Linked DNA regions of Homo sapiens. The protein of the gene in region 6 interacts with the protein of the main gene of each other region in a pairwise test. Each region holds a gene or a part of one and is shown on either strand. Other genes may lie near its edges. The genes, in order: EMP1, TMEM120B, UACA, RSPH1, PLP1 and JPH1.

The links.
Region 1: the proteins of JPH1 (region 6) and EMP1 interact in binary tests that used the Homo sapiens proteins (3 or more experiments, as listed by UniProt).
Region 2: the proteins of JPH1 (region 6) and TMEM120B interact in binary tests that used the Homo sapiens proteins (3 or more experiments, as listed by UniProt).
Region 3: the proteins of JPH1 (region 6) and UACA interact in a two-hybrid assay, tested with the Homo sapiens proteins (one large-scale study listed by BioGRID and IntAct).
Region 4: the proteins of JPH1 (region 6) and RSPH1 interact in a two-hybrid assay, tested with the Homo sapiens proteins (one large-scale study listed by BioGRID and IntAct).
Region 5: the proteins of JPH1 (region 6) and PLP1 interact in binary tests that used the Homo sapiens proteins (3 or more experiments, as listed by UniProt).

The regions. Positions count from the first base shown.
Region 1 is NC_000012.12:13,199,726-13,203,225, forward strand, and holds part of EMP1 (epithelial membrane protein 1), read left to right. Parts: intron 1-3,500.
Region 2 is NC_000012.12:121,719,252-121,722,751, forward strand, and holds part of TMEM120B (transmembrane protein 120B), read left to right. Parts: intron 1-3,500. UniProt on the Homo sapiens protein: Necessary for efficient adipogenesis. Does not show ion channel activity.
Region 3 is NC_000015.10:70,659,059-70,662,558, reverse strand, and holds part of UACA (uveal autoantigen with coiled-coil domains and ankyrin repeats), read left to right. Parts: intron 1-2,342; coding exon 2,343-2,408; intron 2,409-3,500. UniProt on the Homo sapiens protein: Regulates APAF1 expression and plays an important role in the regulation of stress-induced apoptosis. Promotes apoptosis by regulating three pathways, apoptosome up-regulation, LGALS3/galectin-3 down-regulation and NF-kappa-B inactivation.
Region 4 is NC_000021.9:42,482,725-42,486,224, forward strand, and holds part of RSPH1 (radial spoke head 1 homolog), read right to left. Parts: intron 3,081-3,500; coding exon 2,945-3,080; intron 1-2,944.
Region 5 is NC_000023.11:103,789,980-103,793,119, forward strand, and holds the end of PLP1 (myelin proteolipid protein), read left to right. Parts: intron 1-547; coding exon 548-619; 3' UTR 620-2,640; downstream 2,641-3,140.
Region 6 is NC_000008.11:74,241,541-74,245,040, forward strand, and holds part of JPH1 (junctophilin-1), read right to left. Parts: coding exon 2,989-3,500; intron 1-2,988. UniProt on the Homo sapiens protein: Junctophilins contribute to the formation of junctional membrane complexes (JMCs) which link the plasma membrane with the endoplasmic or sarcoplasmic reticulum in excitable cells.

The DNA.
Region 1 (3,500 bases), on a different chromosome or scaffold from region 6:
ATTCCCCTTAGCAGGCCAACTCTAATTTTATTAAAGTTCCTTAAATCAAGCAAAATCAACTTCCTTATAACTTCCTGATTCTGCTGGCCTGAAACAACTCAGAAAATATCTATTCTGGTTTTGTTGTTGCTCCACCCAATGATTCTCATCCTCTAAACACTTAACGCCTATTTAATATTTAATGAATACAACTTGATGGATCTACATTGCATTATCTTTTCTTCTTCTTCTTCTTCTTCTTTTTTTTTTTTTTTTTGCCTAAGGCTCAGAAGGGCAGGGAGCATTTTTGAAGTTTGGAATTATGTACATAGTCAATCATACTCACGGGGTTTTTGATTTGGAGGTATTTAATTTTCTAAATGCATGAATATGGTTCCTTCTTTAACCTCCCACATGTATGTACATAGCTGCCTAACACAAAAGCTCAGGCCTATTTGGGACTCTCAGATGTACATACTCGGAGGGACACACCCAGTGTTGCTACCTACTAGGTCATGGTTAGATCAATCCAATACCAGGACACAGGCTTCTAGCTAGGCCTTTTGGGGATTGTCCCATAATTTGGTCCATAGTTCATGTAGCCCACACCTATACATTGTCACCACCCATCATAGTAATTACGGGAACAGGCTGCCCATCAAATGTAGCCTCCTTGTAATTGCTGGCCAGCAATCTGGGTATCAGCCCCTTGAGAAGAGCTCCTAACCCTTAACCAGCGTAGAACGGGAATTTTCTCACCATAAGCTTCCCTTTTCTAATACTCTTCCCAGATCCGCCCAGGTGATCTTGAATTTCTGGACTGCACTTGCTATTCAGTAATCAAGGAAGCCCAAATATGGTTCCAGTTAGGGGTTTACTTGAATCTTCAGCACCCAGCCCCGACATACACACGTCCTGAGACTGCTCTTTGCAACAATTCAGTCCCTGGTGTCCTGCCTGGGTAAAACCATTTCCTTCAATTTACCTGGGAGATTCACTGATACTAAAGCAGAAAGATGAAAGCACAAACACCTGTGGTGATTGCTGCTTCTCTCTTCCTTTTTAACAAAATGTTTGGGTCAAGGTTTTCTTTTGTGTTGTGGAGATGGCATTTCCCTGGAACTGCAATGGAATCCTCTGCTGTTGGTGCGCTTGGACTTACGTGGCTGTGACAGTTTTTCTATTTGCTGAGCCTGTTTCATGAATTGTTTCTTCAAACCGGGTAGTTAAACTAGAGAGCCCTTTCAGCACAGGTTGAAAGCGTGGCAAGAATCCTGGAGCAGATGTAAGACAGCTGACTAGGAAGACAGAGGGGCAGTGGTGTTATCTTGACGCTGCCATGTAACCACAGGCGAGACACTTGTCTTCTTGCTTTCGGAAGTTGAACTTGGTGGTTCTTTCAGACCCCTTATGGCTCTGAGATTCTAAGATTCACCCAGGCGTGGTAATCCCAGCTACTTGGGAGACTGAGGTGGGAGGATCACTTGAACCTAGGAGTTTGAGACCAGTCTGGGCAACATAGTGAGACCCTGTCTCTAAAAGAAGAATTTTAAAAAGCAGGGTGTGGTAGTGCATGCCTGTAGTCCCAGCTACTTGGGAAGCTGAGGCAGGAGGATTGATTGAGCCCCAGGGCTTTGAGGCTGTAGTCAGCTATGATTGTACCATTGCACTCCAGCCTGAGCAATGAAACAACACCCTGTCTCAAAAAAAACAAAAACAAAACAAACCAACAAACAAAAACACCAAAAAAACGAAAAACAAAAAAATTAAGATCCTACCATTTCTATTTTGAGATATCCCTTGCGCTGATGCTAGCAGCTGGCTTAATCTGTAAAAATTGATAGAAAAGTGAAATAGGGCAACGTGTGGCATTGAAAAGGGCATTTTGCAGAGGATTCTCGTCTCCTGGGTGCCTTGAGGACCCACGGAGCCTCCTCTGCCCCATCCACTCACAGATTCTTTAGGTATGGTGTTCCCCGGACTTACCCTCAGCCATGAGCATTCACTCGGCACTAGGAATAAAAGAAAGAGGTTTGAGTAATTAAACGTAAAGGGTGCCAGCTCAGATGAGGAGGGCAGGCTGAGTCTGTGAAGACATTGACAACAGCAAAGCATTCACCAGGAACAGAATCAGGCTCAGGGAGAAACTGAGCTGGCTCTGGGAAAGAAACTCCACCCTCTTCTTGAGGAGGGAGACCCTGCAGCATGAAGGTGTGGTGTACAGGTGTGGACAGGAGCAAATGAGGAACAGTTTGAGAGGAGGAAGAGGAAGGTGCAACTAGGACAGGAGGGAGGGAGGGAGGGCAAGTGGGATGCTGTTTCCCAGGCCTGTGTGTTGAGGGAGGAGGCAGGCAGAAAGACCTAGAAGCAGGAGAAAAAGCTAAGTGGATAGAGAAAGACAGAAAGGGGGCAAAAGAGCAAGGGAGAAGTGATGAGGATGTTTCCCCTTCCATCCTTCCACTCTTGTTTGGGGACCACCCACCCTCAATGTTTCAAGGCAGTCCTTCGGTCAAAATTCGATTCTTTGTCCCCTGTGAAGAATCTTTTGTCGCATTGGCTACTTCTTGTTTTTTCAGGATGGTTGACACCTCTTTGGTATCATTTTAGTTTCCACTACATGTGCCCACCAGGCTGGAACCTCTTCAATGTTTCTCCTCTTCCAGGTCAGATCAGAGCTGAGAGCAAAACGGGGTTCTTGATCCTTAGACTTCTCATTTCAAAGAATCAAAGACCCTTCCCCAGGACGCTGGAGAAGGGGAGTTGGACAGAGGTTTGCAACCCTGAAACAACTAGTTTGGGGCAAGGCAGTGTGTTCACATTGATCTCAGAGAAAGCTCTGAAGCTGAGACCTGGAGCTTCCCTTTATTGAAAGATAGTCTCCATGTCTGGGTGGGGTGGGGACTCCTGTGCTGAGGGTTAGAAGGTTGCTCGGAGTTTGCAGGGGGATATTGTTCGGGTCTGTTTTGGCCAGGCAGGCTGGCTCTGCTGGGTGGGACTTCTCAGCAAAACGACAGGGAGAAGCAGTGGCCTCGGAAGACCCTGTGTTTTTATAATTGGCACAGTTTTAAGGGGTATATGCTGACTCTCTGATTAACTCAGAGAGGGTAGGAGGAAAAGAGAGAACAGTAGATCTGGTAGAAGTTCTAGAACTTCCACCAAACCCTAAGCCAAGAGACAGGAGAGAAAAAATCATGCCAGGTGGAAGAGCCCTGCCTGGAAGGTGCGAAATGGCTTCAGTTCTGATTCAATTCCATTTCTCCTTTGGGGACGTGCATTTCCTTCTTATCAAGGGGTTGGACTGAATGACCTCAATGCCTCTCAACCTCTAAAGAACGAATTGAAATGAAGCCCTGAGCCCACCTGATGGGTCTGGGGTGTCTCTAGGCGAGGGGCCTCCCCTCCCAGCTTGCCGCCTTCCAGGAGGCTGCAGCTTTGCTGGTTGAAGCATGTTGCCGCCATCTACTGTTGGTCCCACCCAAGCGCCGCTGGGGCCGGGCCACACCTAGGTTTTCTTCCCAAAC
Region 2 (3,500 bases), on a different chromosome or scaffold from region 6:
AAAACAGAGAGAGGGATGCTGGACAGGCACCTTTTGGGGGGCTAATAGAAATTGTTGGCTGGGTGTAGTGGCCTATGCCTGTAATCCCAACAGGAGGCTGAGGCAGGTAGATCGCTTGAGCCCAGGAGTTTGAGACCAGCCTGGGCAATGTAGTAAGACCCTGACTCTACAAAAAACCACAAAAATTAGCTAGGCATGGTGGCGTGCACCCATGGTCCCACCTACTTGGGAGGCTGAAGTGGGAGGATTACCTAAGTTCAGGAAGTGGAGGTTGCAGTAAGCTGAGATCCTGCCACTGCACCCCAGCCTGGGTGACAGAGTGAGACCCTGTCTCAAAAAATGTTTTTTTCTTCAAGGGAAACAGTGGCATCGATTGGACACTGCTTAAATTGCTAACGGGGGTAGTTTAAGGGGGTGGTTCACAGTTGCATGTTAGGCCACACTGCATTCTTTTTTTTTTGAGACGGAGTTTTGCTCTTGTTGTCCAGGCTGGAGTACAATGGCTCTGTCTCGGCTCACTGCAACCTCTGCCTCTCGGGTTCAAGTGATTCTCCTGCCTCAGCCTCCTGAGTAGCTGTAGCTAGGACTACAGGCACATGCCACCACACCTGGCTAATTTTTGTATTTTTAGTAGAGACAGGGTTTCACCATGTTGGCCAGCTGGTCTCGAACTCCTGACCTCAGGTGATCTGCCCACCTCGGCCTCCCAGAGTGCTGGGATTATAGGCATGAGCCACCTTGCCCGGCCCACACTACATTCTTGATGATGTCACATCTTTGTGACAGTGCCTAGCCTGCTGCATGCACCTCATCTCCTAGCTCTTTCACAGCTGATGACACCGAGGCACAGAGGGATTACATAACTCAGCTAATAAGTGGCAGGCTCTGGATCTGAACTCGGGCAACTTGATGGCAGCATCAAATCACTTAACCATTGTGTTTTCATGCCACCCAAATGCGTGCCTCCCACGCACAGACCCCCACTTACCGCTCCCGTAACATACCGTTCATGGATTCTGACACATGACTCAGAATCTGTCCCGCACAGGACGCATACACGTTAGGCGAAGTCATCCTTGGTGGTGTTTCTATGGTGATGAGTCCTGGTTAAGTATAGTCAGCGTCTGAAAGTCTATTTGAAGTTGATTTCTTAGAGCTATATAAAAGTAATCTCTTGTCCAGGCACAGTGGCTCATGCCTGTAATCCCAGCACCTTGGGAGGCCAAGATAGGCAGGTCATTTGAGCTCAGGAGTTTGAGACCAGCCTAGGCAACATGGCAAAACCCCTGTCTCTACAAAAAATACAAAAATTAGCCAGGCATGGTGGCACAGGCCTGTAGTTTCAGCTACTCGGGTGGTTGAGAGAGGAGGATCGCCTGAGCCCAGGGAGGTGAAGGCTGTGGTGAGCAGCCATGATTGTGTCACTGCACTCCAGACTGGGCGACAGAGTAAGACTGTGTCTCAAAAGAAAAAAAAAAGGAATCTCTTGAAAGTTTACCACCAGCAAGAGGCACAGCTCTAAGGCACCACACTTAAGTGGCGGTATGGCCCTATTGCAGTCTACTGGACTGCCCAGCGACTTCTGATGCTCCTGGGCCAGAACCATGTCTGTAAATGCCGTGAGATTCCTCTAGCAATTCCTGCAACACATGTTGACTCCCCAGTCCTGGATCTTCCGACAGCCAAGATGTGTTAAGGAGGTGTCTTCAGATGTTTCACATCTGTACTGGGAACAGGAGTCATTAACCTCATCTTCCCACTGGGGCAGAGCTTGGGTCTCAGAGGACAGCAGAGGTGGCAGAGATCCCTGAATCTTCCAAAGGAAACTTGCTTGTTTGTGTCTTCTACATGCGGAGGATGGTAATTAGACAAGTAGGGAAGATGCTCTGGGCATGACAGCTCACAGAGCTCATGTGAGCAGTTCTCCTTTTTGTTGTTGTTTTGTAAGAGAGGGTCTCACTTTGTCGCCCAGGCTGGAATGCAGTGGTCCCATCATGGATCACTGCAGCTTCAACTTCCTGGGTTCAAGTGATTCTCCCTCTTCAGCCTCCTGAGTATCTGGGACTACAGGCACACACCACCACACTTGGCTAAGTTTTGTAATTTTTGTAGAGATGGGGTTTTGTCATGTTGCCCAGGCTGGTCTTGAACTTCTGGCCTCAAGCATTCCTCCCATCTCAGCCTCCCAAAGTGCTGAGACTATAGGTATGAGTGCCTGGTCCTCCTTTTTTTTTTTCAACCAAGAGTTTCACTCTTGTTGCCCAGGCTGGAGTGCAGTGGTGCCATCTTGGCTCACTGCAACCTCCGCCTTCTGGTTTCAAGCAATTCTTCTGCCTCAGTCTCCCGAGTAGCTGGGATTGCAGGCAGGCACCACCACGCCCAGCTAATTTTTGTATTTTTAGTAGATGGGGTTTCACCATGTTGGCCAAGCTGGTCTTGAACTCCTAACCTCGTGATCCGCCCACTCCAGCCTCCCAAAGTGCTGGGATTACAGGCATAAGCCACTGCATTCAGCCCTGGCCCTCCTTTTTTTTTGAATGGAATCAGTTCTACTTTTTTTTTTTTTTTTTTTTTTGAGACAGCGTCTTGCTCTGTCGCCCAGGCTGGAGTGCAGTGGCTCAATCTTAGCTCATTGCAACCTCTGCCTCCCGGGTTCAAGCGATTTTCCTGCCTCAGCCTCCTGAGTAGCTGGGACTACAGGCATGTGCCACCATGCCCAGCTAATTTTTGTATTTTTAGTAGAGTTTCACCATGTTGGCCAGGATGGTCTCGATCTCTTGACCTTGTGATCCGCCCGCTTTGGCCTCTCAAAGTGCTGGGATTATAGGCGTGAGCCACCACACCTGGCCTTTTTTTTTTTTTTTTGAGATAGAGTCTCGCTCTGTTGCCCAGGCTGGAATACAGTGGCACGATCTCGGCTCACTGCAACCTCTGCCTCCCGGGTTCAAGCGATTCTTCTGCCTCAGCCCCCTGAGTAGTTGGTATTACAGGCGTGTGCTACCACAGCAGGCTAATTTTTTTATTTGTAGTAGATACGGGGTTTTACCATGTTGATCAGGCTAGTGTCGAACTCCTGACCTTGTGATCTGCTCACCTCAGCCTCCCACAGTGCTGGGATTAGAGGCGTAAGCCACTGTGCCCGGCCTCCATTCTACATTTTTATAAGTAATACATATTCACACAGTTAAAAATTCATGTAGCAGCCATGCATAGTAGTTTTTATAACACAACTAAAAACTGGCAACCTGAACGTCCGTGGGAATGGATCATTACACTGAGCACCCAGAGAGAGGTGAAGCAGGAGAGTGAATAAACTGAGCTACCTGTGTTAACATCCTGCAGAAAGTTGCAGAGGGGTATGTACAATGTGGCACTTGCAATAAAGGCAAAAACATTGAAAACAACACAGTATATTGCTTAATGATACATTGTATGTAGTCCAAGTATAAAGACTTGCAAAGGAGTGATAAAGACCACAGTTGGTGCTATCATGGAAATTC
Region 3 (3,500 bases), on a different chromosome or scaffold from region 6:
TTGACTTGGCGATGCAGGCTCTTTTTTGGTTCCATATGAACTTTAAAGTAGTTTTTTCCAATTCTGTGAAGAAAGTCATTGGTAGCTTGATGGGGATGGCATTGAATCTATAAATTACCTTGGGCAGTATAGCCATTTTCATGACATTGATTCTTCCTACCCATGAGCATGGAATGTTCTCCCATTTGTTTGTATCCTCTTTTATTTCATTGAGCAGTGGTTTGTAGTTTGCCATGAAGAGGTCCTTCACATCTCTTGTAAGTTGGATTCCTAGGTATTTTATTCTCTTTGAAGCAATCGTGAATGGGAGTTCACTCATGATTTGGCTCTCTGTTTGTCTGTTATTGGTGTATAAGAATGCTTGTGATTTTTGCACATTGATTTTGTACCCTGAGACTTTGCTCAAGTTGCTTATCAGCTTAAGAAGATTTTGGGCTGAGATGATGGGGTTTTCTAGATATACAATGATGTCATCTGCAAACAGGGACAATTTGACTTCCTCTTTTCCTAATTGAATACCTTTTATTTCCTTCTCCTGCCTGATTGCCCTGGCCAGAACTTCCAATACTATGTTGAATAGGAGTGGCGAGAGAGGGCATCCCTGTCTTGTGCCAGTTTTCAAAGGGAATGCTTCCAGTTTTTGCCCATTCAGTATGATATTGGCTGTGGGTTTGTCATAGATAGCTCTTATTATTTTGAGATACGTCCCATCAATACCTAATTTATTGAGAGTTTTTAGCATGAAAAGTTGTTGAATTTTGTCAAAAGATGGGGTCTTCTATGTGGCTTAGGCTTGTCTCCAATGGGGTCTTGCTATAGGCTGATCTCCTGGGCTCAAGTGATCCTACTGCCTCAGCTTCCTGAGTATCTGGGACTATGCTTTTAATTATGCACTAATACACATTGAAATGCTAAGTAAAACGGCCCAGTCACATGTAAATTGTTGCTGATGTTTCCCTATTTCATAGAATTGTTTGAGTTATTTTTTAATAGAAGAAAGGTTTTTTGTTTTGTTTCTTTTTTAGTGTTTATTTTTTAACACTGTAGGCCTACAGATTAAGGATGGCAAATTGTGGATTTGGATCTTATCCAAAGAGTATAGTGTCCCTTTAATAATTGGAAATATTTGTTTATTGTTTATTATGTTCATGACCCTGTGCTAAGTGGGATAAAGAAAGTATGCCATTCCTGTCCCCAAGGAGTTCTGGGTAGTTAGAGAGGCAAAATACAGATTCATAAAAAGTAAAAATCACAAGATGAGAGATGTCAAATGTAGAACTGAGAATGCAGATTCTAAGTGATAGGGGTTTCCAGGAAGGAAAGATTAGTGGTGTGGTAGAAGCTAGTTTTTAAAGAAGGGAGTACCTGGCTTGAACTTGTAACGTAGATGCTATTTTGGTAGGTGAAAGGAAAGTAGAGGCTCTTCCATCTAAAGAAAATAGTGTAAAAGAAGCGTGGAGATGGAATACAAGTGGCATGGCCAGAGGGCAGTAAAAGCCCTGCCTGTAGAGTAGTCCCTCTCTTATCCACTGAGGGTATGTTCCAAGATCCCCAGTGGATGCCTGAAACCATGGATAGGACCTGCTGAATGAACCCTATATAAGCTATGTTTTCCCCCCAGATATACATACCTGTGATAAAGAGTAATTTATAAATTGGGCACAGTAAGAGATTAATAACAACATAATAAAATAGAACAATTATAACAATATGTTGTAATAAAAGTTATGTGAATGTGGTCTCTCTCTATATCTCAAAATATTGTATTATACCATGGGCAACAGAAATAGAGAAAGTGAAACTGCTCATCGCAAAACTGCCAATAAGAGGGGACTGCTGTATTTGAAAGTTAATGTTTGAAGCCAAACTGTGGAAGTCATTGAGAACCAAACTGATGAATTTGGATTCTCTCATGTATGTAAAGAAGTGTCACTCAAGGTTTTTGAGCCAAAAGTGATGTGAGGAAATAGGTACCTTAGTCTCAGAGGCATGGTAAGGAATATAGTGTGGAGATAGTAAGACAGGATGGGAAGCGTTTGCAATAATCCAGACATGTGATAAGTGTCTTCAGAAGTTCATGGCACTAGATATGAACTAAAGCAATAATTTGATGTTGCTTAGGGAAAGTAGCATTACTGTCATTAGCCACACATTCTTTACAGAAGTTTATATTGTTACGTTTTGAAATTCTGCATCTGGTAGGTCCAAGGTAGTTTGTTGTTAGAAGTAGCAGGATCGCCTTAATAATAATAATAGTTTTGTAGCATGAAGCCTGAGCATTGTCCAAAGTTTGGAAATGTGAACGCTGATAGTCACATCTGTCCATCTTTCCACATTTCTAGGATGCTGACAGACAGCACCAAGAAGTAATTGCAATTTATCGGACACACCTTCTTAGTGCTGCACAGGTAAAGAACTACTTCTCCTTTGGAAAGAATATTGCTTTAGAGATAATAATTTTTTATTTTCAAATAAATTTATGTGAAAGTAATTGATGTTTAAAGTAGCTGCACCCCCTATGCTTATTTAAAAATAATTATGTTTCTTTTAATCATTGTTTGTGGATCTCCCAGAAAAATTTACAAAGCTATATGGCAACACAACATCTTAAATTTAGTGTCGTCTCCATCTGCTTGTCACTCAGTTTATAGACAGTTTGGTAACATGTGATGGTAGCACACGTTAATGGTGTTGCTAGCTGGAGATAATGCCTTGACATCCACGTGTGGCTGTCATCTAAGAGGAGAGTGGGAATGGCTTTGAATACTAGAAAAGTACAAAAGTGACAAGCAGGGTGTTATGTGTATAGGATTGTAGTAATTAAAAATGATCTGTTTTACCAAGCCTTAACTTGGCTTGGTAAAGCCAAGGATTAATTAAGGAATAACAGTATGAATTCCCTTTTTTAGGGGTGTACTGAGAAAGTTATTGTTAAAATCATACTAAGAAATTACTAACATATAAAGGATACTATGCTTAATTTCCTGTAGAAACCCCGTGAGCAGCATCTTCAAAATTCTCAGAATAGATTTTTTTTCAGGAAGAAAATGTACTAAAAGAAACAAATTTTAGAATGACAGAGATCCTGGGAATTATTTGGATTTGAAGTATGTTAGGCCACACTGTAAAAACAAGCAAAAAAAAAAAAAAAAAAAAAAAAAAACAAACAAAAAATGAAGAAGGGAAAGATGGATGTTGAGAGAAAGCTTCAAAAAAAGAACAATTTTAAAAAGAGAACTAGATAAAATAATAAAAAGAAAGATACTTTATGATATCAAATTCTTAAAATCAATAGACCTGCCTCTTCTATAGGAAATGGAGGGGAAACTAATGAAAAAGAATGAATGATATGATAGAACAAGGGATCTTAGCTACTCTCTTTTGAGCAAATCAGAGATAAACTAGAATCTTAAAGTTTATTGCAATTATTAGAGAAGATTATTGAGGGACAGTGAATAGGAAGTTCAAGTGGGGAAATAGCAGAAAATCTGTATTAGAGA
Region 4 (3,500 bases), on a different chromosome or scaffold from region 6:
ACCATTCTTAAGTGTCAACACCCAGCAGAAAATACAAAATACAAATGTCACCACCACAATACCCACCTCAAATCACCAAATTGGGTAAAGTGTAACATGGATTAAGGAATGCTTTTGTGAACTCGTGGCTGATGGGATTGGAACTTATATGCCCTGTTTTGTTTACTTTTGGAAACTTTAACCACATTTTACTTTTTTATAAAAGTGATGTATTCATTTTCAGAAAACCTCAGTGAATCAGTATCCATAGGCAAACTAGCTACCGATGGAACTACTACTAATATTTTGATGCATTCTTTGTAACTTTGCTTCTAGTATACATGGTTAAATAAAAATCTGATCATAATTATACATACTAACTCATACTCTATTTTTACTGAGAAATATGGCATGAACTACTTCCCGTATTTACAAATATTCTTTCCTAATAACAGTTGCCACCTGGTACTTTATTTCATCTATGGATTGCAACCTATTTTACTCAGTTACTATTGTTGGTATTTGGGATACTGATTTTTTTTTTTTTTTTACAAAGAACGCTCCAGCAAACGTACTCTGAGTTAAAACTTTATGTACGCTTTTGATACCATCCTTAAATTCTCAGAATTTCTGGACAAAAGCATACATGTGCTTTGATTAGATGAGGCTCTAATCGTTTCATTCCCATAACTGCACTTAAGAGTCCCAGATCCTCAAACTCTTGATTTTAGGAGTGTAAAAATGGTCTATTTTTACATGTTTTTTTATATAAAACAACAGGGTCTCACAATTTTAATTCACTTCATTTCAGTTGTTAGTAAGCCTGCATTTTTTTCAAGATTTTTAGCCATTTAAATCACATTGATTGATAAAACACTTTATATATTAAATGTTGCAAATATTCTCTCCCCATTTAACAGTCATCTCTTAGATTTTCTTTACAGCATTTTCTAATCTATAAGAAGTTATTTTTATAAAGCTAAACCTATTGGTTTTTCCTTTCTATTTCTGTTTAGAAAGTTCTCTTTCCTCATTTCAAGGTTAATATTCATCTACATTTTTTTTCTATATTTCCTAGGGTACATTTAAATCTTTACTTCTTCTAGAAAGTATCTTCATCTGTGTGAAGGCAAAACTATTATTTTCCTCCCAAATAATTGTCAAGTGTTCCTAGCACTATGTCTTGACTCCTCCCATCATCCCTTTGTTAATTTGACACGCTTATTGTGTGTGAAATTATTTTATATACTGGGAACTGTCTCTGGACTTCCTAATTTGCTTCATTGGTGTGTGTGTGTGTGTGTATCCTGGTATCACACTGTTTTAATTATTGAAGTTTTGTGGTATTGATAACTTGTCCACAAGGACATGTACAGGGAATTTTCTGAGGAAGAAACACAAACCAGCAATAAACATGTGACAAGATGTTTGACCTCACTAGTAATCAGGGAAGTACACATTAAAACAATGAGATGACATTTTTTACCCATAAGATTGGAAAAGAACAAAAACAACATTAAAGACTGAGAATATCCAACATCGATGAGAATATATGATAAACAGACTCATATTCTATTGGCAAGAGTATAAACTGACACCACTTTTTAGGAAAATGGGCACTACCGATTGTGATTCTAAATGCCAATCCTCAAAGGTTTCACAATTCCATTATCTAACCTACACAATAGTCCCAAATGTGCAAAATGACAAATATGTATCTTTATGTATATTTTTGTATCCTGACACAGTATGATCCTAATTATGTAATTAAAACCCCCAAACAATAATTCTGTGTCAGATGACTGTATTAGAATGTGCTTACATGACACACAGAAATAGTGTGGAAGGATTGGGCCCAGGGTGGTGGGGCAGGATCCTAGTGTTTAAATGCTTTACAATTGGAATGTACTTGTGTATTATTTGTATAATTTAAAGTTTTTTACTAACTAGCAAAACAAAGCCTCCATTTTTACCCCGATTTTTCAGACTGGTTTAGGCTGGACAAGCTGATTGATTCTTCCAGATTCATTTTCATCAAATTCTCTTCCTCTGCAACCACCTTCCCATCTCCTCCAAAAAGACCCACAGAAAGTTTGCTGGGAATTATATAAACAATGTATGGGTTTGAGGGGAATGTGCTGTTTTGATGAAGACTAAAAGTAAAATCTGTGGTTAGGGCATGAATTATACGTAAATGAAAACTGGGTTCTAAGAGAGTCTGAAGAGACTTCGTTGTATCAGCTAAACATTCCCTCTGTCAACTTCTAACACCATCAATTTGCTCCGCAAATTCTCTCTTCAGGGAAAGTTTCTGCTCAACCCCTGATCAAAGCTACCACGATGGCCTGAGTATTAGCTTCTGAATTATTCAAGGTTTCTCTGTACAATAAGGGCAAGAGGAACCACCGAGTCTTCCAAACAGAAACGGCCCACCATGGGTGCTAGAAGCTGGCAAGCCTCCAGACGCAGGGCCAGGCCCTTGGCAGCCTTAATTCCCACCACAACTAGGAGCACGCAGGCTGGCCTGTAGCATGAGGAGGGAGCTGGGGGTCTTCCTCCCCAGGGATGTCGCACCTCCCCTTCCAGGGAAACAAAACCCAAACACCTCTATGCTCAATTGCAGGAAATAGATATTTGGTATCTGATTTACCCATGAGAAGGAATACACACAAGAGGTTCAGATGCCCTCTCGTGTTATATAACAATGCAACAGGTCCCCGCTGAAAGACAGTGGGAATTTGTACTGAGATCCAGAGAAACGGGCCAATCCCTCCCTTCCCCCAATTCTGTGCTCTGTGGGTACCAGAGGCTCAGAGAATGGCACAGCTGTCCTGTTCTCCACATTTGAATAGGCCGGACTCAGTTTTCTCTGAGTTTTTGGTATTCTCTGGTCACACATTTGCACAGGCTGCCAGAGGGGGTTATTTTGTACTTCATTGGCAAATGTCACTTCCCATGGACTTACATTTTTGTTCAAGAACTTGCCCTGGTACCTGTGGTTCAGGTGAATGAGCTCGGCCGTGCCCTCCTGCTGTCCGTTCACCCAGGTGCCAACATACTTACTGCCCGTCTCCGCGTATAAATAGGTGCCTTGCCCATGCCTGGTTAAGACAAGGGGAACATGGTATTTCGTTCCAGCACAGTGAAAAATCTCCCAGGTTTAAAACACAGACATTGACATTGAGGGAGGCCCAGGCTGTTGCAGGCTCACAAGCGATGTAGCTTCTATATCTGTGTCCAGTCAGAAGGTGCCCCTTGCTCAGTGTGCCCCAAGCACAGGACATTGCCAGAGGCACAGAGGACAGGCCAGCTGGACAGAGGCAAGCCTCCTGTGTGTCAGCTGCTTTCCCCAGGGAAGAGGCAGAGCTAGTGGGAGCTGTGGCTCAGGTCCCCCAGTGGCTCTTCTGTGCCCTCCACTCCCTGGGACTCTTGGGTGAAAGACTCACGTGCTCTGCCCCAACTGAGGTGCAGATGTCAGATACTTGAGTCTACACTTGCACAGAAAGGCATCCTTGCCTCAA
Region 5 (3,140 bases), on a different chromosome or scaffold from region 6:
AAGGCACTGAAGGGTGAAGTGATTTATCTGAAGTTATTTTATAAGCAGTGATCAGACAAGATGAGCTCACAGAACTCCTGGCCCCTACTGCTGAGGTTTCCATACAGAGTCAAGTAATTTCTCACCTTGTAAAACGAATTGATTCATTAACCAGGGGAGAGCTCTACTGCATGATGTGGCTGTGTGTCTACAGCAAGCACCCTATGACTCTAAGTCACTCGGACATATTGATGTGGCAAAGCCCAAATATTGTTCACTTCCCTGAGGAAAACTCAGTGCTAGATCAAACAGAGGTGTGGAATAAATCTTTATGATTTGATTCTCTGGGCCTGGGCCATGAGACCCATGATGCCTCAGAGACATCGGACTTCCAGTCAAGTGTATATGGAGAAAGCCAAGCCTGGGATGTACTGCTTTTTGCAGAGCATGGGTTTTTCCCTTATTTAGTTATGATTTTATTTCTACCCTTCCTCATTCCCAAAGGGATTTGAGGAGGGAGTGCTTTCTTTTCTACTCTCATTCACATTCTCTCTTCTGTTCCCTACAGCTCACCTTCATGATTGCTGCCACTTACAACTTTGCCGTCCTTAAACTCATGGGCCGAGGCACCAAGTTCTGATCCCCCGTAGAAATCCCCCTTTCTCTAATAGCGAGGCTCTAACCACACAGCCTACAATGCTGCGTCTCCCATCTTAACTCTTTGCCTTTGCCACCAACTGGCCCTCTTCTTACTTGATGAGTGTAACAAGAAAGGAGAGTCTTGCAGTGATTAAGGTCTCTCTTTGGACTCTCCCCTCTTATGTACCTCTTTTAGTCATTTTGCTTCATAGCTGGTTCCTGCTAGAAATGGGAAATGCCTAAGAAGATGACTTCCCAACTGCAAGTCACAAAGGAATGGAGGCTCTAATTGAATTTTCAAGCATCTCCTGAGGATCAGAAAGTAATTTCTTCTCAAAGGGTACTTCCACTGATGGAAACAAAGTGGAAGGAAAGATGCTCAGGTACAGAGAAGGAATGTCTTTGGTCCTCTTGCCATCTATAGGGGCCAAATATATTCTCTTTGGTGTACAAAATGGAATTCATTCTGGTCTCTCTATTACCACTGAAGATAGAAGAAAAAAGAATGTCAGAAAAACAATAAGAGCGTTTGCCCAAATCTGCCTATTGCAGCTGGGAGAAGGGGGTCAAAGCAAGGATCTTTCACCCACAGAAAGAGAGCACTGACCCCGATGGCGATGGACTACTGAAGCCCTAACTCAGCCAACCTTACTTACAGCATAAGGGAGCGTAGAATCTGTGTAGACGAAGGGGGCATCTGGCCTTACACCTCGTTAGGGAAGAGAAACAGGGTGTTGTCAGCATCTTCTCACTCCCTTCTCCTTGATAACAGCTACCATGACAACCCTGTGGTTTCCAAGGAGCTGAGAATAGAAGGAAACTAGCTTACATGAGAACAGACTGGCCTGAGGAGCAGCAGTTGCTGGTGGCTAATGGTGTAACCTGAGATGGCCCTCTGGTAGACACAGGATAGATAACTCTTTGGATAGCATGTCTTTTTTTCTGTTAATTAGTTGTGTACTCTGGCCTCTGTCATATCTTCACAATGGTGCTCATTTCATGGGGTATTATCCATTCAGTCATCGTAGGTGATTTGAAGGTCTTGATTTGTTTTAGAATGATGCACATTTCATGTATTCCAGTTTGTTTATTACTTATTTGGGGTTGCATCAGAAATGTCTGGAGAATAATTCTTTGATTATGACTGTTTTTTAAACTAGGAAAATTGGACATTAAGCATCACAAATGATATTAAAAATTGGCTAGTTGAATCTATTGGGATTTTCTACAAGTATTCTGCCTTTGCAGAAACAGATTTGGTGAATTTGAATCTCAATTTGAGTAATCTGATCGTTCTTTCTAGCTAATGGAAAATGATTTTACTTAGCAATGTTATCTTGGTGTGTTAAGAGTTAGGTTTAACATAAAGGTTATTTTCTCCTGATATAGATCACATAACAGAATGCACCAGTCATCAGCTATTCAGTTGGTAAGCTTCCAGGAAAAAGGACAGGCAGAAAGAGTTTGAGACCTGAATAGCTCCCAGATTTCAGTCTTTTCCTGTTTTTGTTAACTTTGGGTTAAAAAAAAAAAAAGTCTGATTGGTTTTAATTGAAGGAAAGATTTGTACTACAGTTCTTTTGTTGTAAAGAGTTGTGTTGTTCTTTTCCCCCAAAGTGGTTTCAGCAATATTTAAGGAGATGTAAGAGCTTTACAAAAAGACACTTGATACTTGTTTTCAAACCAGTATACAAGATAAGCTTCCAGGCTGCATAGAAGGAGGAGAGGGAAAATGTTTTGTAAGAAACCAATCAAGATAAAGGACAGTGAAGTAATCCGTACCTTGTGTTTTGTTTTGATTTAATAACATAACAAATAACCAACCCTTCCCTGAAAACCTCACATGCATACATACACATATATACACACACAAAGAGAGTTAATCAACTGAAAGTGTTTCCTTCATTTCTGATATAGAATTGCAATTTTAACACACATAAAGGATAAACTTTTAGAAACTTATCTTACAAAGTGTATTTTATAAAATTAAAGAAAATAAAATTAAGAATGTTCTCAATCAAACATCGTGTCCTTTGAGTGAATTGTTCTATTTGACTTCACAATAGAAACTTAATAATCGTACCTTGTTCAAGGAGATCATTCATTTTTCAGCTCATCCAAGTCATTCTCATAACATTTCTCTGAAATAAATAGTATATGAATAGATTACTTCTACTTTTATAGTTGAAGACACTAAGAAATAGAAGCAAAGTAATTTGCCCAAAGAAATCCAGTAAGTACATGTCTGAGCTTGTGTTAAAACGCAGATATTGAAACCAATTTATTGCCTACTTAAAGGTTTCTTTTCTCTTCGAAGTTGGGTTTCAGAATGTTCAGAGTCAACTATGGTTACTTTTTCAATACCTTAGTGGTGCCCCAGTCCCCGGTGCATTTAGATTTAAGTTATTGTTACCTTCTCTTTAAATTGTTTGGATATTCCAGTAATGATCCCTTAGTAATTCATACGTGACTAATATTTAGTTTTATTTGGATAGTACTGGATGGAAGGTTTAGTACTTAAA
Region 6 (3,500 bases):
CTCAAAAAATTATCTTTTTTTCCTTTAAGAGATTGTCACTCATATTTAAAACTGTAAGGAATTTTCTGCTAGAAGAGTTACTATGGTTTATGTGAAATCTAAAGCTTCTCTAGCTAGAAACACAAGAGAAGAACAAAGTTTAATTAAGTATTAACAGCAAAGTTTAATTATATATATTTACCTCTTTCGGGGGTGAGGTTCAAACCCAATTTGATGGGGACGCTTTAAATTTTACACAAATTCAAAAGAAAGATTAGATGAACCTCAAAACAAACTTGGATGCAAATCACAGGAATGGCTGAGAAAAAAGTGTAGTCATTTTTCAGAATGGGCTGAGATACCTAATTGGAAAATTCCCCTCTTGTCTACTTGATGGTAAGACGCTAAAGATGCCTCTTCTGACCCTACCAGAGTTGTCATGTTGCAAAACTCTACAAAAATTTCGGGATCACATTGAATGCGTGCCCCTAGGACATGAGTCCATACGCAACCATTGCCCACAGGGGTCACAAAAGTTTCTTGAGGAAAATCTTCCTCAAGAAAGTAATCAATGCCACAGCCTCCCTTCTCCTACCTCTCATACTCGAGTTAACTAATTTCCTGTGTTAGTCTCCATCCCAGGAGATTTTCTGTATTTCTAGGAGATCAATAGCCAGGGTGATCCTGAGGATGGATCAGATCTACTTGAATATTTCTGAACTGCTTATGCTTCAGTTAGCATTGTGTTGAAACAAACATCATAATAGCCAAGGTTTTTTGAGCATTTATTCTGCGCTAGGCACTATGCTAAGAACTTTTAAAGTATTGACTCATTTAATCTTCACAACAACCCTGTGATAGGTACAGATGAGGAAACCAAGGCACAGAGCAGTTAGGAAACTGTCCAGGGTCACACAGCTGGTAAGCAACAGAGCTGGGATGTGAACCGAGGAAGTTCAGCAACAGAGTTCAATTCTGTGAATTTTAAAATTATTCACGAATGTCTAACTTATACAGTGTCTTTCTCTCAAAACTATGTAGTACTCCATTATCTTAAAGGTCATCCACTGACAACATTTATGATGACTGTGCCACTTCCTAACTCTGAGGAGTGGGGACGGCAGCGTTCTGTTACTATTGGGAAGACAATGTTAATTATTAGAATCTTCGCGTGAAGGTGTCAAGTCGGTCTTGAATTTTGCAGAGGCAGTCTAAAGCTCAGGGTAGCTGCGGAGCTGCTGGGGCTTCCCTTCCCCCTTGGGGTGTAGAGGGGTACCCTAAGGACCAACTACTGAGATGGAGGATGCTTGTCTAACTCCAAGAATCTGAGAATTCCGCAAATAAGTAAAACAGATGTTTTTTCTAAATGAGGAGGCTGTGAATTTACCAAACATACGTATACTACTGTTTTACAGAGAGACTCTTTCAGCTAAGAGCTGGGTAATTCAACTTTTTTTTCCCCCTATCACAGCCTAATGTATAGGACGCTGGGGCATACACTTCCCCTTGTAGAAGTCTAGAAGTCAACTAAAGCCCACAAATGGGTACCCAAAGGTATAAAAGGTATGGCCTTGCATTGTTTGAATTTTTCCCTGTGTAAATCAGGCAAACTAACACTGATATATGCGAGGCCTTATTAACCTGGGGATAAACATGCTGAAAGTCAAATGAGAAGTAAGCTATTACATTTAACAAATTCAATAGTGATTATTATAGTTGTAATGTCAAGATACTGTCATATTAAGGTTTAAAATCTTTAAAATGAATGCTTACTGAAGAGTCAGAATCTTAAAGTTAGTCTGTTTTGAAAACAATTTTTCTCCATGCAGGTGGACTCCTAGGAAGTTGGTCCAGTTAATCTGAATAATTTATGTTTAGCTAATTAAAAAGTTGAAAATTTGAAAAAAGAAGAGAACCAGTGTTTTATAGATATTAGCAAAATAAACACACAAGAAATTTTAAGCATAAGTTAACAGAGGAATTTTAATTGTTTAATCCTGTGAGTAAATCAAACAGACAAAAATAAGAAACTGATGGCTGTACTATATTCTTGTTGGCCAAGATATTAATCCACACCATTATGCAAATATGTCTCTATAATTTCTAGTGAATACTAGGTGTGTAACTTTCAACACCTCTGTTCTAAAGGGATGTGATCAGGTCAAGAGGTCATTTTTTAATCAATAATTAGCTTCAGATTTTATAAATACTATAGCATTTGATAAAACACTAATTCCATACATTATTCAAAAAATCTCCTTTTAAAGAAGGTATAAAGATTTTTCAATAACACAGAGCTTTTCTGGCTGAATAATAAATAAATATCTTAAATGCTTAAGACTAATTGATACTAATAACCTGCATCTACCAGAAAACTGAAATTGTAAGAGTTCTCACACTTTGAAAAGACAGAAGACCAAAGAAATTCTCTTGAACTGTTGGAAATTTTCAGTTCTCTTTTGGGAAAGAAAAATGTTCTAGCTGCAAAGCCTGGCTAATTAAAGTCCAAACTACGTATGTATGAGAAGAATTCACAACGGCTAGAGGAGACGTTCTTTTGTGTAAAGATGCTGACCGCTGTGGTGAAAACAGGAGAACTAAGAACTTGTTGGTGCCCTTTTCCTAGAGCTCTGAGAGCGGCTGGCCCTTGGCAGGGGTCATGATTCCTTTCCAGCAATCAGAGAGCAAGCTACCAGGAAGCTCACCAAGACACGCTGTTAAAGCCTTGCTAAAATGTGCTAAGATGCTGTGCTAAGCTGGTCAGGTCTTACCTACCTGAATTACATCTAAAGTGGGGCTGGGTGAACATAGGGGTGGTGGGGGGAATTTCTGCCCAGAGAGCTCTTTGCTGTCTCAAGCTACCAATGTGTTATGTGCTGCTCTAAACAACCCTGTGCTTCTAGAACCTTGGTTAGCCTGGCTGTGATCAAGATGCACAGTCACCCCACACAGCTCGCTGAAAGAAACAAAGGGAAGAAAGAAAGAGAAAACGCTACTTGCAGTACTTACTGAATTGGCTTCTTTTTCCAAAGCAGGGCATGAATCGTTGCTTGCTGGATTCTTTGGTATAGCAAGTTCAGACTTCTTAGCTTTTGGCTCAGCTTTGCTTTCTTTGGCAACTGGTTTTGTCACAGATTTGGAGGGACTCCACTTGTTAGCGGATGGCTTGTGCACCAGTGCTGAGGAAGACTGGCTGGATCCATCGCCGTCCTCCACGTCTACTGGAGGGTGCTGGGGGGCGTTCAGCTTCACGTAGTAGCCGTGATACTGAGAATGCAGCTCCCCGTTACTGGGGTTGGGGATGTGGTGGCGGCCAGAGTACTTGGACTGGGGCACAACCGCTCCTGCCTCCTTCGTGGGAGCCTTTGACATCAAGGGCTTATTGACAATGGCCGTCACCTGCTCATCAGCCACACTCCTTTTGTCTTGGTTGAGTCTCGCCCCTGAGCTGGGGTTTTGCTTCTTCAGGGGCTTTGGGGAGGAAGCAGGAGAGTGGCTGTGTTTGGGACTTGCCTCAGGAG